4 separate regions of the Homo sapiens genome follow, and regions 2, 3 and 4 are each linked to region 1. The links come from fine-mapping of genetic effects on gene expression. A gene starts in region 1. Each other region holds a variant in brackets. All regions are shown on one strand. Distances are between the middles of the regions.

Region 1 (7,737 bases):
TGTATTTGTAGCTTTAGAGGGTATTGCCAGTCTTTTTTTATTTCTTTCTTTTTTATTTTGAGACAGTCTCACTCTGTCGCCCACGCTGGAATGCAGTGGCGCAATCTCAGTTCACTGCAATCTCTGCCTCCCGGGTTCAAGCGATTCTCCTGCCTCAGTCTCCTGAGTAGCTGGGATTACGGGCATGTGCCATCACGCCTGGCTAATTTTTGAATTTTTTTAGCACAGACGAGGTTTTGCCATGTTGGGCTGGTCTTGAACCCCTGACCTCAGGTGATCCGCCCACCTCAGCCTCCTAAAGTGCTAGGATTACAGGCGTGAGTCACCACGCCCAGCCATTATCTCTCATTTTCTAAAGTGGTAGTACCATTTTATACTCCGAACAGCAATAAATTGTAGTTACATTCTTACTAACTGCTAACTCATTTATTTACTAGCATCTGGACTAACATTTGGTATTGTCAGTCTTTTTAATTTTAGTCATTCTGGTAAGGGTGTAGTGCCCACCAGCCATCTCCAACAGATTTTAACATATATGCTTCAGATCTCTTTTAAGAAATATAAATTTAAATATTCATTAGTGAATCTAGTAAGGGATGTGTGTGCGTGTGTATATATATATATATTGTATATATACACACACATATACAAGAAAATAACATACATATTATATAAAATAACGTATATATACACATACTGTATATATACACACACAAACTATATATATATATGTGTGTGTGTGTGTATTTTGGAGACAGGGTCTCACTCTGTCATCTAGGTTGGAGTAGAGTGGTGTGGTCTTGCCTCACTGTAGCCTCGACCTCCCAGGCCCAAGCAGTCCTCCTACCTCAGCCTCCTGAGTATCTGGAATTATAGGTGTGTGCCACCACACCTGGTTAATGTTTTAATTTTTGTAGAGATGGAAAACTGCTTTGCTGCCCAGGCTGGTCTCGAACTCCTGAGCTCAAGGATTCCTCCCACCTTAGCCTCCCAAAGTGCTGGGATTATAGGCATGAGCCACCGCACCTGGCCAAGGTCTGTATTTTTCTTATTGTACTAAACTTGCAACTTTTCTGTAGATTTAAAAATTTTCAAAATACTGTAAATAGTTTAAAAATATATAAATTTTAGATATAGCTGAAACTAACTACTTACCCTTTCCCAGCCTCCTAAAGTAATTACTATCCTGAATGTAATGTTTATTGTTTTTTTTTTTTTTTTTTGAGACAGCGTCTCACTGTCACTGAGGCTGGAGTGCAGTGTCATGATCTCAGTTCACTGCAACCTCCGTCCCACGGGTTCAAGTGATTCTCCTGCCTCAACCTCCTGAGTAGCTGGAATTACAGGTGTGCGCCACCAGGCCCGGCTAATTTTTTTTTTTTTTTTTTTTTTTGTATTTTTAGTAGAGACGGGGTTTCAGCATGTTGGCCAGGCTGGTCTCGAACTCCTGACCTCAGACTAACCGCCCGCCTCAGCCTCCCAAAGTGCTGGGATTACAGGCGTGAGCCACTGTGCCTGGCCTGGTACAACTAATTTTAAAAGCAGGTTGACACTCTAGTCCAACTGGCAGATGTGCATACCCCATGCCATTGTAATTTTTCCCCCTAGAAAAACTCCTATTCAGTCGTACAGGGAAATGAGTATAAAAACATTTGCTGCTGCCATGTTTGTAATTGTGGACAATTGGGAATAATCTTTATACCTCATCAATGAAAAAATAGACCAATTATGGTTCATTCATGTAGAATACTATACAGTAGACTATGAACCAGAGTTACATGAATCAGAATTCGTATTTCTCAAAAGCATAATGTGGGCCGGGCACGGTGGCTCACGCCTGTAATCCTAGCACTTTGGCAGGCTGAGGCAGGTGGATCACTTGAGCCCAGGAATTCAAGACCAGCCTGAGCAACACAGTGAAAACCTGTCTCTATCTTTTTAAAAGGAAGAAAAGCATATTGTGGAACAACAACAGAAAAAAGCAACTTGCAGAATTATAAAGTATGATATCATTTGTATAAATTATAAGAAAATGTTAAATAGCGCTATTATATATAATTTGTAGAGTTATACATATATACCTGAGAACAATAAACATTACATTCATGCAGCCAGGCACAGTGGCTCATTCCTGTAGTCTCAGCACTTTGGGAGACCAAGGCGGGCAGATCACTTGAGCTCAGGAGTTCGAGACCAGCCTGGCCAACATGGTGAAACCACATCTCCATTAAAAATACAAAAAATTAGCTGGGCATGGTGGCACGCCTGTAGTCGCAGCTACTCAGGAGCTTGAACCCAGGAGGTGGAGGTTTCAGTGAGCCGAGACTATGCCACTGCACTCCAGCCTGGGTGACAGAGAGAAAAAAACAGTTGTACCAATTTATACTCCCACTAGCATTAGATAAAAGTTCAAATTATGCCAGGCATGGTGTCTCACATCTGTAACCCCAGCATTTTTGGACTCTGTCTCAAAAAAAAAATCCACATCTTTTACAACACATGATTGTTAGATTTTTTAGTTTTTGCCTATCGGATGATATATTCTTATTTACATTTTCATTTTCCTTATTACTAAGGGGGTTGAGCAGCTTCTCACATTAGGCCTTCCTCCTCTGCCCACATGACATGACTATTCATATTCTTTCCCTGTTTCCTACTGGGATATCATTTTCTTTTTTTCGTTTCTTTTCTTTTTTTGAGACGGAGTTTTCCTCTTGTTGCCCAGGCTGGAGTGCAATGGCATGATCTCGGATGACTGAAACCTCTGCCTCCCAGGTTCAAGCGATTCTCCTGCCTCAGCCTCCCGAGTAGCTGGAATTACAGGCCTGCGCCATCACAGCTGGCTAATTTTTGTATTTTCAGTAAAGATGGGGTTTCACCATGTTGGCCAGGCTAGTCTCAAACTCCTGGCCTCAAGTGATCCACCCACCTCGGCCTCCCAAAGTGCTGGGATTACAGGCATGAGCCATCGTGCCCAGGCACTGCCATGGTGTTTTTTGTTTGTTTGTTTGTTTGTTTTTAAAGATAAACCTCTGGGGTTTCTGGAAAGTAAAGCCCCATGCTCCAAACAGCTCTGCTATACCTGTGTGCAAAATATTTTCATCTCTCTCTCTCTCTCCCCAAAGTGCATGCAAACACATATGGAACTGACATAGGCATCCACTGTCGCACTTCAAATTAAACAGACGCACACGACAGATATTCTCACAGAAAAGCAGTCAGCCAAGCCCAGAACCCATAGATCTAGGTCCACACTCACGCCTCTGCATGCTCCCCAGAAAGACGGATGCATCGCCCGCAGGTAGAGACGGGCTCACCAATCCCACTCAAAACCCGCTGCCGGCTTACAGCTCGCAAGCCGCCCACAGTGCCAGCCCCATGCCAAGCATCACTAGGGGCTCTAGAATAGGCAGGGGCCTTGTTCTCACTTCCTTTGTGTTGCTTTTATTTTAGTTGTTTTGTTTGTTGTTTTTCTTAGAGTTATCACCTGCCCCTCTGTCTCCCTACCCAGCCCCCAAGCCTCCCCTCCAAGCCTCCACTGCGCATGTGCCGTGCATCCCTGCCCCTTCTGGGTACCCGTAGGCGCTCCCGGGCGCTGGCGGCGGCGGAGGAGAGGGAGCAGCGTCACGGGCGCCCGGCCCGTTAAAACGCTGCTGGCTGGAGCCACCTCCCTCCCTGCAGCCCGCAACGGGAATGGAGTAAAGGGAGACCCGTCGACCTGGCCACGGGGATCAGCGATGGAATTAAAGCAATCTTTGTCCACCCATCTGGAAGCCGAGAAGCCTCTGAGGCGCTATGGGGCGGTGGAGGAGACGGCTTGGAAAACGGAGAGACTGGGGAGAAGTGAGTACTGGGGCGGGGGGCGGGGGGCCGGGGACAGCTGGGGATCCATGCGCCTGCGCGGGTGGTCGCGGGAGCGCGAGGAACGCCAGCAGTGGACCCAGGGAAGCGCCCCCGCAGCGGGGCTGGCAGCTCAGGGGGATACGCAGCTCTGCGCAGCGACGCGCTCTCCCCGCGAACAAAAGGGGGGGACCCTCCGGGCTGAGCCTCACTGGGAGGGTTGGGAGATGGCCAGGCAGCTAAGGCAGGAGCCTGGGCTCGACTTAGGAGTCCCGGATCCGTCAGCTCGCAGCTGGTCCTGTGAAGTCGGGTCTCTCCCACAGCCCAGGGAGGAGGATCCTCTCTCCGCCTGGGATGCGCCAGGGCGCTGGAGACGCGGGACCGTCCTGGAAAGCGCCCACGTCCCTGGAGAGGGGGGAGTGTCTGCTGGTTTTCCGCTTGCTTTCCTACCCCCTGCGTGAGGTTTCGGAGCGCACCTGAAATTCCCAGCTTTTCCTCCCTCGCCTTCCTTGGGTCGGGGTGGGAGGCTTGGGGCGGCAAAAGGGTCAAAAGGCACACACCGTTCTCTTTTCTCTCTTGACTCAGTTAAAGTCTGCTTGGGCACAACTCTAGAAGGCAGTTTCGAAATAGACCGGCTGTATTTATTTACTGGTTCTCTCTGCGGTGTTTGGATGTCAACATTTCTAAGTAAACGAAGGATTTTGTTTTTCATTAATAGGATACAATAGTTGAAACTCCTGCCCTCAAAGTGTAGAGGCAGCGTCAGGGGCTCCAGGGTCACTGGAGGTCCCTGCAAACCCGGGGGCTCCCCAAAGCCGCTGCTCTCACATGGCTTGCCCACCAGGCTGGGAAGGAGAGGTCCTTCTCAGGGACCCGGCAGCTTCCTGCCTCGGCTCTGGGTCACTGCTCCGCGCTCTGCCCCAGCACGGATCTCTGAGCGATGTAGGGCTAAAGTATTGTGAATGTGATCTTATTCTGTCCTCACCTGGTGGAAAATTGTGTGTGCGCGCTTTCTTTCTCTATACCTGTAATTATGGATTTAGAAAATCTTCCTAGAAGGGCTCAACTGTGTTCTGATTCTGACGGGTTGAAGTTGAAATCACAATCCAATGTCTTAGTGGTTCATGGGCTAGGATGGATGTCATAGCACTGCCAACCTCTTTCCTTTTCTTTTTTTTTCTCCCTTTTTAACCTTGGTCTTTCTTTCTAGTTCATCCTTTCAAGACCCAATGACTTGGTGCTTTGGCATAATATCAGGGCGTCAGGGCTGAGGGTCTCTGTTTCTTTCTTTAATTTTTAAGTGCACATAGTGGGTGTCCATATTTATGGAATACATGAGATATTTTGATACAGGCATACAATGTGTAATAATCACATCAGGGTAAACGGGGTATCCAAAACCTCAAGCATTTATCCTTTTTTTTGTGTTACAAACAATCCAATTACACTCCTTTTTTAAAAAAGCCCAGCTGTGTGACTAATTATACTCTTTTAGTTTAGCTTTTTTTTTTTTTTTTTTGAGACGGAGTTTCGCTCTTGTTGCCCAGACTGGAGTGCAATGACACAATCTCGGCTCACTGCGACCTCCACTTCCTGGGTTCAAGCGATTCTCCTGCCTCAGCCTCCAGAGTAGCTGAGATTACAGGTGCTCGCCACCATGCCTGGCTAACTTTTGTATTTTTAGTAGAGATGGGGTTTCACCATGTTGGGCAGGCTGGTCCCGAACTCCTGACCTCAGGTGATCGGCCTGCCCTGGCCTCCCAAAGTGCCGGGATTACAGGTGTGAGGCACCCCACCTGCCCTCTTTTAGTTATTTTTAAATGTACAATAAATTGTTGACTGTAGTCATCGTGTTGTGCTATCAGATACTAGATCTTATTCATTCTATCTACCTATATTTTTGTACCCATTAACCATCTCTGTGTCCCCCCATCCCAATACCCTCCCCAGCCTCTGGTAACCATCATTCTACTCTGTATCTCCATGAGGGTCTCTTGTTTCTTACAAGCTCAAAATAATCTCAACAATGGCTGCCTTTTATTGCTAGATGACCATGTGCTGAGAACTCTAAATGCATCATTTCATTTAGTCCCCTCAACAACCTCCTGCAGTACTAAGATTTATAAATTTAAATCTTGCCTAGATTTAAAAAAACATTTTAAAATAAAAATTTTAAAACAAAACATTTTAAAATAAAAAATTTAAATATAAATTTAAAATCTTGCATAGATTTAAAAAAACAAAACAAAACTGGGACTTGTTAGGTGATCTGACAGTTAAGTGGCAGAACCAGGATTTGAACCCCGGTCTGTTGGACCCCAGAGCCTGCTTTTAACATGAAGGTTTATTGCTTTCATGGTTTCAGAAAACTTCCTAAGTCTATTGAGATAGTCACAGAACATGCTCAGTGATTTTATAATTATGTGGCAGCCCTGTTGCTCTCTGAAGCTCACAGAGGCCTTAAAAAAATGCTGGGTCCACGCAGAATGGAAGCTGTTCACAAGAGTGCTGCTTTGAATCCTCACTCTGTGCCTTGCTGGCTATGTGACTTTAGGAGTATTGCTAAGCCTCACTCTGCCTTCATTTTCTGAAAATAGAGATTATGTCTTTATTGTGTATACTAAATAAGATGATACATATAGTACTCAAGGTTAAGTGCTCAATACGTATTGTTCACTTCCATTCGGTTACTGCACAACATTTATAGACAGAACCTGCTTTTACTCTTTGCAAGGAATTATGTAAATATTGGTCAATTCTTCAATAATGCCCTTGTAGCTTTTTATATCTTAACATTTTATGAGAAAAAATTTGAAACATGCAGGAAAATTGCAGCAAGCACCCAATTTACAGCAGTTTCAATCCTGAAATTTTTGTACTTCTGGGTCCTATGCTGCACACTGTTAAAAGTCAGGTATAAGGCCAGGCGCATTGGCTCACGCCTGCAATCCCAGCACTTTGGGAGGCCGAGGCGGGCGGATCACAAGGTCAGGAGATCAAGACCATCCTGGCTAACACGGTGAAACCCCATCTATACTAGAAATACAAAAAATTAGCTGGGTGTGGCAGTGGGCGCCTATTGTCCCAGCTGCCGGGGAGGCTGACACAGGAGAATGGCGTGAACCTGGGAGGCGGAGCTTGCAGTGAGCCGAGATTGCACCACTGCACTCCAGCCTGGGTGACAGAGTGAGACTCCCTCTCAAAAAAAAAGAGTCTGGTATAAAGTCCTTCTTACCCTCTGTTTCAAACCATCAAAGACTCAGTCTTGCTTCCTAGTCAAAGGCAAGAGGAACAGCTCCTGATCTGTACTTGCGTGGATCCTCAAATCTGGTTTTTCTTTTCTTTTTTGAGATGGAGTCTCACTCTGTCCCCCAGGCTGGAGTGCAGTGGCATGATCTCAGCTCACTGCAACCTCCGCCTCCCAGGTTCAAGCCATTCTCCTGCCTCAGCCTCCCAAGTAGCTGGGACTACAGGCGCCTGCCACCACGCTCAACTAATTTTTGTAGTTTTAGTAGAGAGGGGTTTTCACTATGTTGGCCAGGCTGGTCTTGAACTCCTGACCTTAGGTGATCCACCCACCTCAGCCTTCCAAAGTGCTGGGATTACAGGCATGAGCCACCACACCTGGCGAAAGCTGAAATTCTTAAAACGTGGATCCAGAGTCTAACTTTTGAAACTTGAATCTGGCAAGTTTTATTTTCTAGACTATTTTTTTTTTTTTTTGAGACAGGGTCTTGCTCTGTCGCCCAGGCTGGAGTGCAGTGGCACAATCAGCTCACTGCAACATCTGCCTCCCAGGTTCAAGCAATTCTCCCGCCTCAGCCTCCCGAGTAGCTGGGATTACAGGCATGCACCACCACGTCCGGCTAATTTTTGTATTTTTACTAGAGATGGGGT
Region 2 (6,229 bases), 74 kb after region 1:
CGTTTAAGACCTTTCCAACGCAAAGGACTGGAATTCTATTCTACAACAGGGGATGGGATAGGTACCCCCAGTGGTACTTTCATGCTTGTACCATCAAACAGCAATGAATTTCCCTTCAGGAAAGCTACGCATTTTCTCCCCAATTATCAACCTTTTTGATTACCTAAAGGAGAAAGCCACAATTTGGTGCTAGCTTTGTCTTTAATGCCCCTAGTACTTGCTGATTCACCTTGTTAAGAAAGAAAATTCAAGCTTCATTCTGAACCTTAAGCAGGCTATAGTATTTAGCAAGAATTTAACAGTATTGCTTTGTTTCCTCAGGTTTATTTTCATGGCTATTTTCTAATTATGCCAAGTAAGAGTCATTTATTGTCTGTGGATGTCATGGGACATTTCCGTTAGGGAGTTTGAGTAAAAAAAGTCAATGTCGGCCAAGCGCAGTGGCTCACGCCTGTAATCCCAGCACTTTGGGAGGCCGAGGTGGGTGGGTCATGAGGTCAGGAGATCGAGACCATCCTGGCTAACATGGTGAAACCCGTCTCTACTAAAAGTACAAAAAATTAGGCTGGTGTGGTGGTGGGCGCCTGTAGTCCCAGCTACTTGGGAGGCTGAGGCAGGAGAATGGCGTGAATTCAGGAGGCAGAGCTTGCAGTGAGCCAAGATCACGCCACTGCACTCCAGCCTGGGTGACAGAGCGAGACGCCGTTTCAAAAAAAAAAAAAAAAAAGTGAATGTCATGACATACTGAGTGGTATATGACAGAGTACAGAATATGTAGCTGGGGTAAATTCTATGCAGTGTTGAGAGTTTTGGAAACACTGTTTTGTAGCTCTTTTGACCTTAGAGCATGGGCATTGGGATCAGATAGATCTGGGTTTGAGTTTCATTTCTACCACTCATTATAGCACTGCCCCAATTGCCCCTTAGAACTGATGTTTACGGTGTTTTGTTTTGTTTGAATAAACACAAAAATTTACCTTCCTAATCTTTTGTTTTTCTTTTTTCTTTTATTTTTGAGACGGAGTCTTGCTCTGTCACCCAGGCTGGAGTGCCGCGGTGCGATCTCTGCTCACTACAAGCTCCGCCTCCCAGGTTCACACCATTCTCCTGCCTCAGCCTCCCAAGTAGCTGGGACTACAGGTGCCCGCCACCACGCCCGGCTAATTTTTTGTATTTTTAGTAGAGACAGGGTTTCACCGTGTTAGCCAAGATGGTCTCTATCTGACCTTGTGATCCACCTGCCTCAGCCTCCCAAAGTGCTGGGATTACAGGCGTGAGCCACTGTGCCCAGCCCCCTCCTAATCTTAAAATTTTAGAAAGTTACATTCATTTTACCTGAGTTCCTTTCTCAAGAAACTGACCTCTCGGCCTTCCAGATAGTATTAAGGAATTGAAATTTACCAGATCACTATATGTGGACAATGAGATGCCAGACTCCTCAACCATCACGATTGCCTAACCAACCACCTGCATCCTGTTGACCAGATTCTCTTCCTTACCCCTTCCTAATAATTTCCCAGAAAAAAAAAAAAAGAATAGGGATGTATCACAATGTAACACATGGTTGCGTTTCTTCCTTGCTACCTCTAATTTTAGTGGGTTGAGGAGATGGATTTGAGTCTCTTTCCATCTCCTCAGCTGCAGCACCCAATTAAAGCCTTCTCTGGCAATACTCATTGCCTCAGTGATTGGCTTTCTGTGCAGCGAGTAGCAGGATCTAGACAGAACCCTTGATGTTGCTGCAACAATTGAGTGAGTGAGTTTGACCAATCACTTATGACCTCTCTAAGCCTCATTTTATTAATCTAGAAAGAGAGGTTGATATGAGCTAGATCATGGCTCCGGTAAACACCCAAAATGAGCAAGCTCTGGGGCCAGTACTAGGCACGTAAAGTTATAAAGCAGAAGTAAAGGCAGAGGTTGTGCAGGGCACCCTGAGCTTAAATTCCTACCATGACCCCTGATTGGAAAAGATGGGCTAGGAAAGGTATCTCTCTGGTCCCCAGCAGTTTAACCCTCCAAGCTTGTATTTAAACTAGAAGTTTTTAGATCACCAGCCCTCATCCTCTATCACCTCCACCACTCCTGTCCCTGGGTAGCCTTACTTTTTGTTTTGTTTTGAGATCAGTGATTAAACCTGCTGGTGCATACCAGGGCTGCCCGGGTGCTCAGCTCTTGTTTGCTGGTGCCACCGCTCAGGAAGCATGCATCTCCCTGGGGTGGCATTTGGGGATGGGAAGATGGATTTAGCTGCCTCTTCCCCCAGAAGTGACTCAGCTCCTGGAAGCTCAATGACAGCAGTGGCAGTTGGAGCCCTGGGGACGTCTGTGCCTTCATGCTTTGCTGTCTCCACACAGCAAGCAAGCTCTTGCTTGGAAGTGTGCGTGAGAGACTTGTTGTCTCTAGCCAGCTTGAAATGCTCCTCCCGTTTCTTCCCGTGATTTGTCCTCCTCGTGGAGACATTCCTTGGCAGCTGTCGGATGCCTGCCTTCTAGTTGGAAAATGTGATCAAGAAAGGAACAGTCTAGCAGGCTAATTTCTATCACACAAGTTCAGACTGGAAAGAAGCTGACTGTGTGTGATATTCATTTATTCAGGTCCTGTATCAGCATTTTTCACTCTGATCTGAAGACCTCCTTCATTAAGGTCCCTGGACACAACACCCCAACCCAGGTTTATCCTAATCCTTGGAGGTGGAGGCAGGGAATTGTTTCTTAAACAACCTCCCTAGATATTCACCTTGCCCACTGATGTCTGGGAATAACTACTCCCTCTGTGTCTAAAGCAATACAGTCTACTCAGTTTTGTTATGATGATGATGGTACTTACGTAGGGAGGTAGTTCTTACATGAATATGGTTGATTACAACAAGAGCTTTGGAGTAAGAGAGATCTTGTTTTAAATCTCACCTCCATCACTTACTCCCTTTCCTGAGCCTCGACTTCCCCATCTATGAAATGGGATAACAGCACTGACCACCCAGGGCTGTTTTGAGAATCAGATAAGGTAATGCACAGGTGCTGGCATGTGATAAATGCTCGATAAATGTTAGTTATTATCGTTACTGGGTAAACCTGGCTTTCCTAACTTTTAAACTGGAGAGATTACAGTATACCACCCAGGGAAGGGGTTGGCCAACTTTTTCTATAAAGAGCCAGGTAGTGAATATTTGAGGCTTCGTGGGCCAGGGAGTCTCTGTGGCAACTACTCAGTTTTTGCAATGCAAAAGCAGCCATAAATGACATGTAAATGAATGAGCGTGATCAGTGTCCAGAACAACTCTACTTACAACATCAAGCATGGGGCTGCGCTTGGTCCCCTGGCCATAGGGTATCAACCCCTGGCCTAAGGTATTGTGCAGACTAAATGAGATGAGATTCATTCCTGTAATCCCAGCGCTTTGGGAGGCTGAGATGGGCAGATCACTTGAGCTCAGGAGTTGGGAGACCAGCCTGGGCAACATGGCAAAACCCCATCTCTACAAATAGTACAAAAAAAGTCACTGGGTGTGGTGGAGTGAACCTGTAATTTCAGCTACTCGGGAGGCTGAAGTGAGAGGATTGCTTGAGCCCGGGAGGTTGAGGCTGCAGTGAGCCAAGATCATGCCACTGCAATCCAGCCTGGAAGACAGAGCGAGACCCTGCCCCACCAAAAAAAAAAAAAAAAAAAAAAGATGAGGTTTACAATGAGCCCAACACAGTGCCTGATGCAGAGACAGCTCATGGCAAGAAAGGATTCTAACGATTTGTATCTGATTCAAGCTTTAGGCTTCGTTCCTTTCTCTTGGGGAAGAAAAACATCCTTGAGCAAGACTTTTCAACATAGGTCTTTGTTCCATTCTTTGCCCCAAATCCAAGCTAAGCACCTGGAGCCTGGCACCACCGCCTCCATCCTCCCCCGGGGATGGAGGTAAAATGCCAGTTCCTGGGATGTGATTAATTCTCTTCGTCCCACGCCTCGCCCCAGGGTGTGTTGCCGTTTTCAGCATCTGTCCCATGGAAATCAGGTTGCCCATCTGAACTGTGATGAGAAAAACAAGGATACTCATATCGTGGGGTGGTTAACTACGCACTTTCGCAGGCACAAATGCATTCAGCCCTCACCAGGAGGCTGGATTAC[G/C]TGGTTAAGGTCACGTGGTTGTGGAGTGGAAGGGGGGTGGGGGGGGAGAGAGAGAGCACAAGCTGGGTTTGAATACTATCTCTGCAATGATCTGGCTGTGTGATGTTGAACAAGTCACTTTCCTTCTCTAAGCCTCAGAGTCATCTCAGTAAAATAGAGATTAAATGAGATAATACACAGAAAGCCTCCAGCACAGGTAACTATTGAATTCTTGTACAGAGGAGGAAAGTGACGCAAAGACATAAAGGGACTCATTCGAGGTCTTGCGGCTGATGACTAGTGTCAAATGAGGATTTCTGACACTGCCCCCGCCTAGCTGTTTTTTGCCAGACCCCACTTCCCCCATGCACTTCCCTCACCCCCTGGTGACTCCCGCTGGGACCCCTGCTGCTTCCAGCCAAGGCTGTGCTCTGTGTGCAGGATCTCAAGCCCCTGGAGAGAGTGACATTGTTGTCAGGAAGCTTGCAAGGCTGTGGCCATTCATTCTTGTGGGTTTGTGGCCTCCTGAAGTTCATGTGCATCTTAAAACATCAGAATGTGACCTTATTTGGAAATAAGGTCTTTGCAGGGGTAATTCAGATCAGGATCCAGATGAGCTCACATTGGATTAGGGTGGGCCCTAAATCTAATGAGACAGAAAAGAAGACACACAGAGCCACCCGGAGGAAGAACCTGTGAAAACAGAGGCAGAGGTTGAAGTGATGCTATTACATCCAGTGGCAAAAACCGTAATTACTTTTGCACCAACCTAATACTACAAACCAAGGAGCCAGCAGGGGCTGCAAGGGCCAAGAAAAGATCCATCCCTAGAGCCTCTGGAGAGCGCGTGACCCTGCCAACACCTTGGTTTCCGACTTCTGGCTTCCCGAACTCCAAGAGATTAAATTCCTTTTGTTTTAAGCCTCCCCACTGGCCATGAATTGTTATGGCACCACGCTTGACTCTGAGATAGGAATGAATGGGGGGTGTCGGACTTAGAACAGCTGCCTGGACCAGAGGCAGCTGTGAGGGTCAAAAAGCATGAATTTGAAGCCAGACCTGGACTCAGCTCTTTCCCTTGCCAGCGCTGAGCCTTTGTTTCTTTGCGAAAATGAGAACCTACTGAACTTGCTGGCTTATGGCGAGGATTAAAAGAGGTGATGGGCAGAGCAGGTGCGGCGGTCATAACGAGGGCAATTGCAAGCATATATTAAACGTGACGTGCCGGGGTAATTCATCCCTCACATCTGTTTTGGGTGGTGGGCTCCCTTACAGAGGAGAAACAGAGCTGCTGAGAGGTTAACCAACTCCCCAAGGCCACACAGCCAGGGAGGGGCAGAACTGGAACTCAAACCCAGGCCATCTGATCTGGTAAGGCTGGTCTTCTAGCTTGGTAGCATCACAGCACACAGTAGCACTCAGTATTAATTATCTTTTTTTTTTTAGACGTAGTCTCACTCTGTCCCTCAGGCTGTAGTGTAGTGGTATGATCTCGGCTCACTGCAGCCTCTGCCTCCCAGGTTCATGTGGTTCTCGTGCCTCAGTCTCCCAAGCAGCTGGGATTACAGGCACCTGCCAGCATGCCAGGCTAAGTTTTGTATTTTTAGTAGAGACTGGATTTCACCGTGTTGGTCACACTGGTCTCGAACTCCTGACCTCAGGTGATCCGCCCGCTTCGGCCTCTCAAAGTGCTGGGATTACAGGCGTGAGCCACCGTGCCCAGCCAATATTAATATTTCGATCCTATTCCTCCCTCCTTCCCTCCTTTCTCAAGCCTGTCCTCACTGCTTCAATCCCAGGAGCCACCACAGCATGGTGTCAGGGACAGTAGTAGGACCCGAAATTGGATTCCAGGGGCCTTGAAGCATAACCAGATGGCCCCAGGAGATCTTTAGGCAGCACATCACATGAGACATTTCCTACAAATCCTCTGCAAACAGACATCGCTCCCTCTCCCCAAGCCACAGCCTGAGGTGGCTCCTCTGACCTCTCTCCTTCCTGCTTCTCTTTGACACTCCCTCCTCTCCCTCCACTGTGTCTCCCTTTTCACCCTTCCCTGGCAGAGGCTCGGCCAGGTGGCCAGATAATCTTCGGGACCCGCCATCTTTAGAAGGCAAGGAGGAGGTGATTG
Region 3 (7,737 bases), 160 kb after region 1:
AAAAAAGAAAACATTAAAAAATCCAATTTATTTAAGCTGTCACAGACGCTTCCAGATTACCAGGGCCACCTTCCAAGCTGGGAAACCTTGCAGACTGTGGGGTCCTGCACACCTAGACTTGCTCCTTTTAGAAGCCATGGAGGAGGTTGATAATGGGAATAACATTTATTGTAGCTTATCTCTATGCCTTGAGCAATGTGCTCACACTGGCTGGTTCCCTCCTCACATCAGCCTGATGAGTCAGATCCTGTTATTACTTCTCACTTTACAGATGAGGAAGTAGCAGTAAATCCATTACCCTTTTCAAGCGGAGGTTGCAAGAGGTTGCAAGCGGAGGCAGAATAAACACTTGAAACAGTGAGTCAGATCCTGTTATCACTTCTCACTTTACAGATGAGGAAGTGGCAGTAAATCCACTGCCCACGGTCCCAGGGGTTGTTAGTGACAGAGTCATCATTCATCTCCCTCCCTCCCCACCACTGTAGCCCCAATTGTTCTTTCTCTTCCCATCGGAGGGATTTAAACAGGTCTCTCCCATTTAAAAGCAAACAGGGCTGGACACGGTGGCTCACGCCTGTAATCCCAGCACTTTGGGAGGCCGAGGCGGGCAAATCACGAGATCAGGAGATTGAGACCATCCTGGCTAACATGGTGAAAACCCATCTGTACTAAAAATACAAAAAAATTACCTGGGCATGGTGGTGGGCGCCTGTGGTCCCAGCTACTTGGGAGGCTGAGGCAGGAGAATCGCTTGAACCTGGGAGGCAGAGGTTGCAGTGAGCCGAGATTGCGCCACTGCACTCCAGTCTGGAGACACAGCAAGACTTTGTCTCAAAACACACACACACACACACACACACACACACACACAACACAACACAACAACAACAACAACAAAAAAAGTGTCCTCTTCCTTTTAGAGAATTTAAAAAACAGGGTGAAACCCCATGTCTACTAAAAATACAAAAATTAGCAAGTGTGGTGGCACATGCTTGTAATCCCAGCTACCCGGAAGGCTAAGGCAGGAGAATCGGTTGAAACCAGGAGGCGGAGGTTGCAAAGAGCCGAGATCGCACCATTGCACTCCAGCCTGGGCAACAGAGTGAGACTCCATCTCGGAAAAAAAAAGTGGGGGCTTGGGGGTTCCGGGCATGGTTGACTGTGTGACTATATTATATCTATACATAATATATAGATATATATCTATATATAATATATAGATATCTATATATTATATATAGATATATATCTCTATTATATATAATAGATATATCTATTTATATATAGATATTATAGAGACATCTATATCTATATCTATATATAATATCTATATTATATTACGCCTGTAATCCCCGCACTTTGGGAGGCCGAGGCAAGTGAACCACTTGAGGCCAGGAGTTTGAGACGAGCCAGAGCAACATGGCAAAACCCCGTCTCAAAAAAAATTAGCCAGGTGTGGTGGCAGCATCTGTAATCCCAGCTGTTCGGAGGCTGAGGCATGAGAATCGCTTGAACCCGGTAGGAGGTTGCAGTGAGCCGAGATCGTGCCACTGCACCCCAGTCTGGGCGATAGAGTGAGACTCTGTCTCAAAAAAAAAAAAAATGTATTTCCTGATTCTTGCCACACCTGCCCTTGATGCATCAGACTCTGGCTGCTGAAATACCAAGGGCGGCGACCCTGCAGCCCCAGTGTGGATTTGTCTGCACTTGCTGATACCAGAAACTGCAGTGGGGGCAGGTGGGTGGTAGGAGCGGGGGTTCCCTCATGCCCAGGCCCTGCACCTGGGAAGCCTTTGGAGGCCATCACATGAGCTGCCTGAGGCGGATGGAAGAGACGGTGCCAAGCAGGCCCAATATGTTCCCTGCTGGCCCTGGTACTGCTCCCCTGCGGATGCTCCTGGTTGGTTCACCACCTCGTGCGGAGTGAGGAGCTGAGCAGCCCAGCCACTGAGCAGGATTTCCCTCTAAGAACGGCCCCTTCCACCCTGCAATGCCTTCTTCCTCTGCACCTCAGCTCCCCCACTTCCAAGGCGTTCCTTCCCGGAACGTGTGTATTCTTCTCTTCATCTTGCTAAGGAAAGTTCTGGCTCTTGGTGCTCTGGCTTGGCACCTTCTAAGCTCTCTAGCCCTTTTCCCCCCGCCCCCCCCCCCCCCAAAAAAAAGCGTTCTCAGCCAGGCGTGGTGGCTCATGCCTGTAATTCCAGCACTTTGGGAGGCTGAGCCCAGAGGATCACTTGAGCTCAGGAGTTCAAAACTAGCCTGGCCAACATGGTGAAACCTCATCTCTACTAAAAATACAAAAATTTGCCAGTGTGATGGTGCACATATGTAATCCCAGCTACTCGGGAGGCTGAGACAGGACAATCGCTTGAACCTGGGAGGTGGAGGTTGCAGTGAGCTGAGATTATGCCACTGCACTCCAGCCTGGGTGACAGAGTGAGACTGTCTCAAAAAACCAAAAAACAAAACAAAAAACCACTCAGGCTTAGCCATTTCTCTGGGGTCTTCATTTCCTTATGAAGACTCTCGCAAAACTGGTATGAAGTAAAATTTGTTTGCTTTTTTCCTATTAATGTCTTTGTCAGTTTAAGGCCCAGCCAGGGACACTAGGAGAATTGAGGAAGTTTTGCCGCCCACCGCCCCCCCCCCCAGCAATGGGGACAGCAGGTGGGTGGAGGCCGCTGAGGGCTTCTGCGCCATGACTCACCCTCTGCCCATGGAAGCAGCTAGAAAGTGAAGGTGAATCCCAAAGCGCAACGCTCCTTCTGGCAAAGGGAACAGAGAGGGAACAGATCTTCTTCAATCAGCGCAGCCCCCTCTGCTACGGACAGGTCTGCTCTCCCCCAGACAGCTGTCTTCTAGGCCCCCACCTCTGAATCACCTTCCTAGGTGG[GAAAC/G]AAACAAAGATAAATGCAAAGCCACCGTTCCAGCCCCAGTCCACACCTAACAAGACCTCCTGACGCCGCTCAAAAGGGGCACGATGGCTACTCAACTTTTTCTGCACAAATTTGCCATCGTGAAATGTTTGGAAAGGTCTTTAGCAGCTTTTAACATTGCTGAACTTGAAAAAAATGTCATCAAGAAGCAATTTACTCAAGTCTCTTCTGGGTCCTTTTAAATTCTTGCCAGAGGGTGCTGGTGGCAGGGGTGACGGGGTAATGGCGGTCTCAGGGGATGGGAGGGCTTCACAACTGTATCTGTGGAATAACTCTTTTCCAAATTGGCTTATTCAAAAAGCATGCTTAGCAGTGACCAAAAACGAGACAGCGGGCACGCTGGATTTCTTTCACAAGAAGAGAGAGCCTAGGAATTAATAGAGTTTTCTAACTGGAAGGTTTTTGTGGTTACTGTATTTTCCCACATGTAATTATAAGCTGGAACAAAGGCTGGAAAACTTGGAGGATCCTGACGACGAAGGGCCCACCATCCAGCCACCTGCTTCGGCGTGTGCTGAGTTTAAAAGGCCTCTAAGATGTAGACGGATTTACTCTCCACCTCACAATTCTATTTCCAGAAGGGGAGAGAAGTTGAGGAGACCCAAAATGAAAGATGGCAGAACTGTATTGGTTTGTAATTCCTCCCCACAGACAGACAGACAGACAAAACCACTCACTTGGGAAACTCAAAATAGATGCTCGCTTGTAAAGTTTATTGACAACTGTTTGGTCCCAACACACAAAACAGCACTTGAACCACAACAAAAGTGTTCAAACAAAGTAGACAACTAAGAAAAACATCTCTTTCCCCCAAACCCAATCCAAAACAAACAGTGCAAGATGGGAAAGGGGGTTTTGGTGATAACTTTTGTCATTTTTTTAAACAGATAAATTTAATCCGGTATATCTTTCCACCCAGAAATAAAGAATTACATTGTCTTAATGCTCAAACATCATTTTACCACATCATTTAATTAAGCCTCTGGATAAAAAAATAGATAGCAATTGGACTGGCCATTGTGGAGTACATTATGAACACAATGTGCTTCCGAAGTCTTCTCTCTCATTTTCAGACAGCAATTGTTAAGAGTCACACACACGTCCCAGACCTAAGCAGCAACTCCAGTGAATGGTACTCAGACACACTCACGGGACAGCACAGAACTTGATTCTTCTTTGTCTGTTGCCCAAAGAACCTGTTCTTTGAGTCTGTTCCAGGTGACTTGTAATGATACCTCTTACGGTTTTAAAGTCCACCACTCTTTACATGCTAGCAGAACTGAAGTCCAAGCGTGCAAACTCAGCCTTATGAAATCTTAGAATAAGGCAACTGATGTTCTCAACACCAATTATTATTACTTTGTTTAAAAGCTCCTTTAAAAAAAATTGCACATTTGCATTTCACTTCCTGTAACACTATGTCTGTAGAGGAAATGCCTTCAGGAGGATTCGGAGAGTGCCATAATACTTACAGGGTTTTTTCCATGGTGTTCTGTCTTGACTGGGGCCATGTGTTGAGAACTGGGAGTCACTGGCTTCATTTAAAAGATTTGGGGAACAAAAAATCTGACTTGTAAAAATCTCTCTATAGCCCTTATTTTGTGGCATTTTATCAAAATGCTATGAAATCAGAGTCCATTTTCTGGCTTTCTAGAAGTTACCAAATATAAACATTTCCCCAAAAGAAACCATCTAACTAGTGGAAGACCTTACGCCAACAGGTTCTTTCTGCTCTATGAATGAATCCGCCTTTTTTGCCGGACAAATACAATCCATTGTAAATGTCAGGTTTCTCTAGAGGGGGGTGAGAGGCCACCCGTCAGCGGACACCTCAGGCACCTAGAGAGGAAGGCCATTCCACACCAGACGCCACAAGAAACCCAGAGATGCTTCCAACAGCGAGAAGTAACGAGAGTAAAATCAGACACGATTAAAAGATGCTGAGCTGACATACACACACATAAAGCTTCCCAGCTACCGATACCAGCTTTAAAATTACAATAACAAGGTTAAGTGGATCAACCTTGGCCTTCCTATGTGTAGGTAGAATTCCTGTCTCTTCCCAGTGGAAATCGTATTGATCCCGCTGCTGCTGAAGCACCTCCCCACTCAGCTCTGATTTGTAATTTATGCACTTGATGCATATTTTAGAAAATCAGGCTCTTTCCAATGCTGCCTCTCGACACACAATAATGTGTGTTGTAATCCAAATGCTGACTTTAAATCCATGACATCGAGACCATCTCCTTTTCCTTAACCTAACCCATATCAAACTGGAACACAGAAGGGAAGCTTCAAACATCCTCAACTTTCTAGAAAGCTCCTAAATGGAACCCCAAAGTAGAAACGTTTAAAAAAATTTGTGATGAAGCCACTTTTGTCAACTACAGACATAGTTTAAATAAAAAACAAGGCACACTTACAAGTCACATGGAAGCCAGGAACCTTCACATTCCAACCTGAAAATACACTCCGAACCCCTCGCCTACCCTTCTCCTTTGGTGTGTGAACACACAGGCTAGCGGGACAGGCTTTGCTTCAAAGACATGCCACGCACTGGGTTAATACTGTCGGAAACACCAGTAAGCAAAGGCTGAGAGACTCTATTATGCTACATGTAGGATGACACCACCGACGTGGCTCAATGGAAGCAAAACCGCTTCCTGCTAGTTGAGTTTTTAGTGCTTTCTTCTTTTGGAACACCATTGTATTTCATAATAGTTACTAAAAATTTGGTAAAATATATTAAGGATTCTTTAACAAATGCCACAAGTTCTTCAAATAATTGAAAAAAGAAAGAAAAAGGAAGAAGAAAAGAAAGACTTCAGCTCAAAGCTGTGTTCAATGGAAAAGAAAAACATGATAGAACACAGGTAAGATGAAGTCAATGGCTTCGGGGGGTTTTCATGACACAGAAAAGGATGTATTTTTGAAACCCACTTTTGTGTGCAGAATCAGACAGTGTTTTCCCATCCTAATTCTATATTCCAAATGGGAGTTAAAGCTTGGTTATAGGTGCTAAGGAAAAGTTGGCTGCCAATTTGACTCTATTTTTGGGTTGCTTTTTGGCCGGGCTTTCCACGGGGTCCTTGCTGAGCAGTGACTCGGAGGTTTCCGAGGAGGGGCAGGGAGGCACGGGGACAGCTGCTGAGATGCAGGACGAGCTGGAGTCAGAGGTCAGAGTTTTGCTCTTTCCTGGTATTGGAATCTCCATTTTTTCTTCTTGGTTTAAAATCATAATTTCTGTAAACACAGAAAAGCAAACAGATTCAGATCCAGGAACTGTAAGAAGTGTGGGTTTTCTCTTCCTTGCTCATATTTTCTCAAAAGATAATAATAGTAATAAAAAGCTTCTAAATGCTACATCTATGCCACAGTTTACATATGAGTTGTGTGGCCAGTGAACTTGGCACAGAAATCAAGTATCTATAAACTGCATCCCACCTCTCCCACTGGATTACAAAGTTGGAAAGATCTCTATTTTGAGCTATAAATGAATGAGCAAAGGTTAAAACTTTTTGTTTTTCCATTTTGGATTCTCTGCCCATTCATTCTGCCTGCCAGATATTAAGGACCCATAAAGCTATCCACGACTTAGAGACTTCCTGAGGCGGGAGGCCGTGGGTGGTAGGGGGTGGGGTCGGAGCATCTGGGTGTCAGGGAGCTCCTGGCCTGCTCCATTTAGAGAGGACCTATGCTCCCCATGGGTCTATTACCGGGGATAAGGAAGGACTACGCAGAGTGAGAATTACCCTCAGAACCCAGGAAGTTGAGCACAGCCAGCTTTCCCACAGTGCTTCTGGACTGCCATTTCTGTGGCTGAGCCACATGTAATTCACCTGCTCTACACACAGGGCCACGCTGCTTGAAAGAGATGCATCATTATGCCTTAGACTCCCACTGCATAGGGCACAGGGCTCCTGCTCCCAAAGGCCCATGGAAGGTGAGAGTGGCAGAGGGGACAGCAGAGCCAGCTCCCTGCCTAGGCTGACCCTCAAGAGAAGAGCGGCTGACAGAACTGCCCACAGTGTTTTAATTATTTTCCTCTCTTGTCCGGTGCATGCAGTTGAACTTGCCCAGACTGAAGGCACAAAGGCCACAACCCCACAAACGAGCTAACATCAATGTGCCACCAACCCTAGGGGGGCACTGCACAGGAGCAGGGCATGGTCTAGGTCTGACTGCACAGGCTGGTTCTATCCGCAGGCAGTTACTTCCCCATCTCCTATTTTCCAAGTCAACAGCCTCAGTTCTTTTCCTGGGCAACAGTGCTGAACGCTGCCAAGAACAACCAAGATGGTAAAAGCCAAGCCAGGAGTCCACGGGTTGTTCCTGGTGACCTGGAAAGCAGCACCAGCAGTGGGGAGGAGTTGGGTTCCAACAGATGAAGAGCAGGGAGGGATCTGTACAGGGCAGATGGGCCATCCTCTCCAGAGGCCAGGAGACACCGCAGGACAAGAGGGCTTGGGTTCCAATGCCGGCTCTGCCCTTGCTAGCCCAGCAGCCCGGGGCCACTGCCTCTCTAGTGACGGCACCAGCTGTGCCTTAGTCACGCAGCCTGTGGAATAAAGCAGCTGCCTTTATTCCACGGCTCTCACCTGGAGCCGTGGTAAGAGTTAAATGTGATGGTGTCTGTCAGCCCTGAGCACAGGGTCAGTGCCAATGCCTGCACTAGGCTGGGACTCAGTGTGCTCAGCTTCCTGTCTGTTATATCACTGGGCAGAGTCCGGGGCTCCAGCCACAGACACCTCCCTCCATTCACCCCTTTATAAAGCCCTTGGGCCCTCTGGACCCCCACCAT
Region 4 (6,284 bases), 30 kb before region 1:
ATGTAGCACAGGCTGGCCTTGAACTCCTGTGCTCCAGTGATTCTCCCACCTCAACATTAAGTACATTTTTATTAAACTATTCCTAAATTAGAGCTCCAGTTTGGTTGACAGAAGGGTCCAATATTTTGACATAGAAATCTTAAAGTTATTTTGATAGATGTATGAGGAGAGGTTTTAAGAGTATCTGTACTTCTCATGAACTGGAAAGAAATAATGTCTCTGGGCCCGGTGCAGTGGCTCATGCCTGTAATCCCAACACTTGGGAGGCTGAGGCAGGCGGATCACTTGACGTTAGGAGTTTGAAACCAGCCTGGCCAATATGGTGAAACCCTGTTTCTACTAAAAATACAAAAAATAGTCAGGCACGGTGGTGCATGTCTGTAATCCCAGCTACTCAGTAGGCCGAGGCAGGAGAATCACTTGAACCTGGAGACAGGTTGCAGTGAGCCGAGATCGCACCACTGCACTCCAGCCTGGGCAATACAGCAAGACTCCATCTCAAAAAAGAGAAAAAAGAAGAAAAGAAAAGAAATAATATCTCTGAATTTTAGTCCATGTTCTCAGTGATTTCTGACTTTATTATATTAACTCTTAGTAATGATCACAATTTACTTTGTAAATTTTGCAGCCAAAGGGACAACAATTTATTCTGTAAATTTGGGATTCTATTTGCAAAATAGAGATTATAGATTGTGAGTGGCTTAATGGAATCATTCCCACATTCAGAGCCAATGTTTTCAGGTGAGCATCCTGCGGAGTCCTGGTGAAAAGAACTTTAACATCACAAAGGTATTGATAGAGAAGGAGAAGGTTTCCAAGGGTTATTCCAAGGTTTGAAGCAAATCAGCATTTTTACTGTTTGCTCGGCACAAATATATACAGTCCAGTCCAATACATATTTATTCATTGATTCAGTTAATATTTATTGAACAGTGTCCTTAAGGCCTGGCAAAATCAGGGATGGTTTTCATCTCTGCCCTAGAGCATGTTTGATTGCATTCATCACAAGGAGGTAAATCTTTGGGATTACAGAATGTTCGCAGACTGGCCTAGGGCTTCACATGTTCTTCCTTCCCTATCAAAAGCAGTGTTGAGCCACACCCAGCTATTACCTCCACAGCTTCTAGCATCATCTGTTGGATGGTACCAGGCCCCTGAGCCAGCATTACTTGATGGCTAGAGGCAGAGGATGGAGAGGTTTGAAGTCAGAGGCTTCCCCTGAGCCTCTATACTCAGGAACAGTAACTATAAGTGTGTTCAGAACTCTTGTGATTTCTCTTAGGGCAGAAATTGAGGACCCCATGGTGACAACCAAATGTGATTTTCTTCTGGTTTTGTTTTTTGTTTGTGTGTTTTGGTTTTTTTGTTTGTTTGTTTGTTTTTTGAGACGGAGTCTTGCTCCGTAGCCTAGGCTGGAGTGCAGTGGCACTCTGCAACCTTTGCCTCCCGGGTTCAAGCAATTCTCAATTCTCCTGCCTCAGCCTCCTGAGTAGCTGGAATTACAGACTTGCACCACCACATCCAGCTAATTTTTTGTATTTTTCAGTAGAGATAGGGTTTCACCATGTTGGCCAGGTTGGTCTTGAACTCCTGACCTCAGGTGATCCGCCTCCCTCAGCCTCCCAAAGTTCTGGGATTACAGGCATGAATCACCATACCCAGCCACTTCTTCTGTTTTACTTTAGAAAAAGGAACAAGTTTTTCCATTATGTTGTAAAGTCTATGGAGATATGTACATCTAACTTTTTTTTTTTTTTTTTTAAAGAGCAAGGACCGGAGGCAGTAGCTCATGCCTGTGATCCCAACACTTTGGGAGGTGGAGGCGGGTAGATCACAAGGTCAGGAGATCGAGACCATCCTGGCTAACATGGTGAAACCGTGTCTCCACTAAAAATACAACAAATTAGCAGGGCATGGTGGCACAAGCCTGTAGTCCCAGCTACTTGGGAGGCTGAGGCAGGAGAATCACTTGAACCCGGGAGGCAGAGACTGTAGTGAGCTGAGATTGCGCCACTGCACTCCAGCCTGGGCGACAGAGCGAGACTCCGTCTCAAAAAAAAAAAAAAAAAAAAGAGCAAGAAGTAGGCAGCTCACACCTGTAATCCCAGCACTTTGGGAGGCTAAGGCAGGAGGATCACTAGAGCCCAGGAGTTTGAGACCAGCCTGCGCAACCATAGTGAGACCCCATCGCTACAAAAATAAAATAAATTAGCTGGGCATAGTTGCAAGTGTCTGTGGTCCCAGCTGCTCGGGAGGCTGAGATGGGAGGATTGCAAGCCTGGGAGGTCGAGGCTGCAGTAAGCTGTGATTGCACCGCTGCACACCAGCCTGAGTGACAGAGTGAGACCATGGTTCAAAAAAAAAAAAAAAGAGAGCAGGAAGTAGAATTGGGAAAGAAGCTTCAGGCAGGGATTTGTAAATGAACAAAACCACAGGAACATTTGCATACTGTTTAAAAAAAAAAACTGGTTACAATGAGTGAGTCTCATCTACCCTCAGGAGAAGAAAGAGGGCAAACCAGTAGTCTGAAGCCCAGCCCATCTGGAGATTTTTTGGGAAGATTTCCTTTAAAGAGGCAGGATGGCTCACGCCTGTAATCACAGCACTTTGGTAGGCCAAGGCAGGCGGATCATGAGGTCAAGGGATCGAGCCCATCCTCGCCAACTTGATGAAATCCCCTCTCTACTAAAAATACAAAAATTAGCATGAGCCCAGGAGGTCGAGACTGCAGTAAGCTACGATTGTGCCACTGCACTCCAGCCTGGGTAACACAGTGAGACCCTGTCTCAAAATAAAAAAATAAAATAAAATAAAGATCTGAAGTTATGCACATACTGGGGGACAGGTCATTCCAGGGGCAGAAGAGCTGAGTACAGTTGACAATGCGTAAAGCACCATGGTATGCCTGGAGGGGAGAAACCACAGGCAGTTTGGTGTTCACAGAGTATTTGTTGAGCAACTTGGAATGAGTTTGGATCCTGGAGACTGTTGAACACCCAGAGCTGAGGATCTTGAACTTCACAGTTAGGTAATGGCAGCAAAGGAAACCAAAGTGGGTGGTTATCGTGACCAAGTTCACATAAGAAATAAGGAAGCATATCAGGTGTGGTGGCTCACGCCTGTAATCCTAACACTTTGGGAGGCTGAAGCAGGAGGATCCCTTGAAGTTAGGAGTTCAAGACCAGCTTGGGCAACATAGCAAGACCCTGTCTGTATTTAAAAAAATAAACATGGTGGCTCACGCCTGTAATCTCACCACTTTGGGAGGCCAAGGCGAGCAGATCATATGAGGTCAGGAGTTCGAGACCAGCCTGACCAACATGGTGAAACCCTGTCTCTACTAAAAATACAAAAAATTAGCCAGGTATGGTGGTGAGTGCCTGTAATCCCAGCTACTCGGGAGGCTGAGGCAGGAGAATCACTTGAACCCGGGAGACGGAGATTGTAGTGAGCTGAGATTGCACCACTGCACTCCAGCCTGGGTGACAGAGCAAGACTCCATCTCAAAACAAACAAACAAACAAAAAAGAAATGAGGTGAGTTCAGCTTGGGAAATGTTGAATGTCAGATGCCTTTGGCCTATTCAGAGGGAGATTGCC[G/C]AAGCACAGAGGAGAGTTCATGGCAGGGTTTAATTATTTTTAGCGCTCACATGTCCCAGATTCGGCCAGTGGGAGTTCCCCCAAGCTGGTTCCTGTGTCCTGTGCATCACCCATCTTCTTTCTCCTTTACTTCTTTCTTAAGCCACTTCCTTTCTGGCATGACAGCGTGTTCCAGGATCATCTTGTACTTGCACCTGCCCTGCCCTGGCCCTAGAATCAGCCAATTCTTTGAGGCATCCTGCTTCCTTTTAGTGGGGGAATGATTTGAGAACAAAATATACTACTACATGATACTACATTCTGACAAGAAAAAAAACACAGCCATAAGAAATAAAGCCATGGCCAGGCACAGTGGCTCCTGTAATCCTAACCCTTTGGGTGGCGGAGGTTGGAGGATTGTTTGGGGTCAGGAATTCAAGACCAACCTGGCCCGCATAGTGAGGCCTCGTCTGTATTAAGAAAAAAAAAAAAAAGAAAGAAGGAAAGCCATGTTTGGATAAGTTTAGTCTTCTGATTATTTTTGCTAAAGTTTTAATTTTTTTTTTTTTTTTGAGACAGAGTCTCGTTCTGTTGCCCAGGCTGGAGTGCAATGGTGCAGTCTCAGCTCACTGCAACCTCTGCCTCCCGAATTCAAGCGACTCTCCTGCCTCAGCCTCTTGAGTAGCTGAGATTACAGGTTCCTGCAATCACGTCCTGCTAATTTTTATTTTTAGTAGACACAGGGTTTCTACATGTTGGTCAGGCTGGTCTCAAACTCACGACTTCAGGTGATCTGCCTGCCTTGGCCTCCCAAAGTGCAGGGATTACAGGGGTATATTTTATATTTAAAGCATATTTAACAATTAAGGGCCAGGCTCGGTGTCTCACGCCTGTAATCCCAGCACTTTGGGAGGCTGAGGTGGGCAGATCACCTGAGCTCGGGAATTTGAGATGCACAACAAGAGCGAAACTCCGTCTCAAAAAAAATAAATAAATATAAAATATACATTATGGCCGGGCATGGTGGCTCACGCCTGTAATCCCAGCACGTTGGGAGGCCAAGGCGGGCAGATCACCTGAGGTCAGGAGTTCGAGACCAGCCTGGCCAATATCATGAAACCTTGTCTCTACTAAAAATACAAAATTTAGCCAGGCATGGTCGTGTGCACCTGTAATCCCAGCTACTCGGAGGCTGAGGCAGGAGAATCACTTGAACCCAGGAGGTGGAGGTTGCAGTGAGCCAAGATCGCACCATTGCACTCCAGCCTGGGCAACAAGAGCAAAACTCCATCTCAAAAAATATATATATATACATACACATATACGTATATATGTGTATATATACGTATATATGTATATGTATACACACATTATATGTAATATCTACTTTTAAATATAAACATAAATATTATAAAGCTTTTATTGCAATTGTTCATTTTAGAAACTTCAGAAAATACAAATTAGTAAAAAGAAGAAAATAAGTCTGTAATACCACTTTTAAGGACTATTTTGAAAACCTCTAGCTGTTTTTTGAGATAAATTTACATACCAAGACTTTTTTTTAAAAAATCATAATGATGACTTTTTCATAGGACTGTGTAGGATAAAGCTTGTGAAATGTCTATCTAACATATTTTGTAATATATGAAAATTTCAGCTAAACTTGTTCTATAGCATCACATGGTTTCAATATATTATTAGAAAATCATTCCATAAACAATGGTTTGGTATATAGTTTCAACAATTCAAGGCTGGGCACAGTGGCTCATGCCTGTAATCCTACCACTTTGGGAGGCCGAGGCAGGCAAATCACCTGAGGTCAGGAGTTCAAGACCAGCCTGGCCAACATGGTAAAACCCTGTCTCTACTAAAAATACAAAAATTAGCCGAGCATGGTGTCAGGCACCTGTGATCCCAGCTACTCAGGAAGCTGAGGCAGGAGAACTGCTTGAACCTAGGAGGCAGATGTTGCAGTGAGCCAAGATCTTGCCACTGCACTCCAGACTAAGCGACAGAATGAGATTCCATCTCAAACAAAATAAATAAATAAAATAATTCAGCAGGATGAGGTGGCTCATGCCTATAACCCCAGCACTTTGGGAGGCTGCAGTGGGACTACTGCTTTTGCCTGGGAGTTCAAGACCAGCCTGGGCAACATAGAGATACCATGTCTCAGAAAAAAAAAAATTAATTTAAAAAAAAAGAATTCATTGATGATTCTGTATTTACAAATATATTCCTGCATCATTTGTTCATGGTAACCAGGAAATTGCAATGCATATATACATGCTGTCATTTCCAAAGCCGCTGTCTTCCAGAATTGGTACTGATTCTAGTAGACTTTTCATTCTGGTGTTAAAAATATAATTAATATAGGAATGTCTTCTACCTAATAGCTTTTTTCCCCACAACTCCCCAACCCCCTCACTCTAGAGGCCTTAAGTAGTCTAAGTTAATCAGCTTAGTCTGAAATATAATACTACCTAGGCATCTTGTTGGCCTAGTATTTCTTACTCTTTTATGGAATGAACTGTGCAATTGTTTTGTGTGGTTAAAAGGTATTCTAGGTCAGGTATAGTGGCTCACACCTGTAATCCCAGCACTTTGGGATGCCGAGGTGGTGGATCACCTGAGGTCGGGAGTTCGAGACCAGCCTGGCCAACATGGTGAAAACCCGTCTCTACTAAAAATACAAAAATTAGCCAG

Which allele goes with the higher level. Positions count from the first base shown, and alleles are read on the strand shown. Sizes are in standard deviations (SD) of each study's normalised expression. Not every link is listed here.
For the expression in whole blood of the gene that starts at base 3,672 in region 1, G is the high allele of the variant in region 2 and C is the other (small effect, 0.37 SD a copy in Lepik 2017).

The links.
Region 2: its variant is fine-mapped to the expression of BMERB1 in whole blood (TOPMed, PIP above 0.99). The same link has a PIP of 0.9 or more in T cells and blood mononuclear cells.
Region 3: its variant is fine-mapped to the expression of BMERB1 in whole blood (GTEx, PIP above 0.99).
Region 4: its variant is fine-mapped to the expression of BMERB1 in skeletal muscle (GTEx, PIP above 0.99).

The regions. Positions count from the first base shown.
Region 1 is chr16:15,430,917-15,438,653 of GRCh38, forward strand. It overlaps BMERB1 (bMERB domain containing 1), which reads left to right and starts at 3,672. Exons shown (of 6, transcript NM_033201.3): 1 at 3,672-3,843. The coding sequence starts at 3,738. The region is part of intron 1 of MPV17L-BMERB1 (MPV17L-BMERB1 readthrough); the gene reads left to right. RefSeq lists an enhancer at 3,976-4,598.
Region 2 is chr16:15,505,179-15,511,407 of GRCh38, forward strand. All of the region lies in intron 1 of MPV17L-BMERB1 (MPV17L-BMERB1 readthrough), which reads left to right. All of the region lies in intron 1 of BMERB1 (bMERB domain containing 1), which reads left to right. All of the region lies in intron 2 of LOC105371102 (a long non-coding RNA gene), which reads right to left. Among named protein-coding and RNA genes, the nearest start is that of BMERB1, 74 kb to the left of the region's middle. RefSeq lists an enhancer at 4,943-5,443. The variant G/C (reference allele first, on the strand shown) is at 4,120.
Region 3 is chr16:15,590,759-15,598,495 of GRCh38, forward strand. It overlaps MARF1 (meiosis regulator and mRNA stability factor 1), which reads right to left. Exons shown (of 27, transcript NM_014647.4): 27 at 3,629-6,179. The coding sequence ends at 5,935. Among named protein-coding and RNA genes, the nearest start is that of MIR6506, 16 kb to the right of the region's middle. RefSeq lists enhancers at 1-967, 314-608. The variant GAAAC/G (reference allele first, on the strand shown) is at 2,894.
Region 4 is chr16:15,401,317-15,407,600 of GRCh38, forward strand. All of the region lies in intron 1 of MPV17L-BMERB1 (MPV17L-BMERB1 readthrough), which reads left to right. All of the region lies in intron 2 of MPV17L (MPV17 mitochondrial inner membrane protein like), which reads left to right. Among named protein-coding and RNA genes, the nearest start is that of MPV17L-BMERB1, 8.7 kb to the left of the region's middle. The variant G/C (reference allele first, on the strand shown) is at 3,600.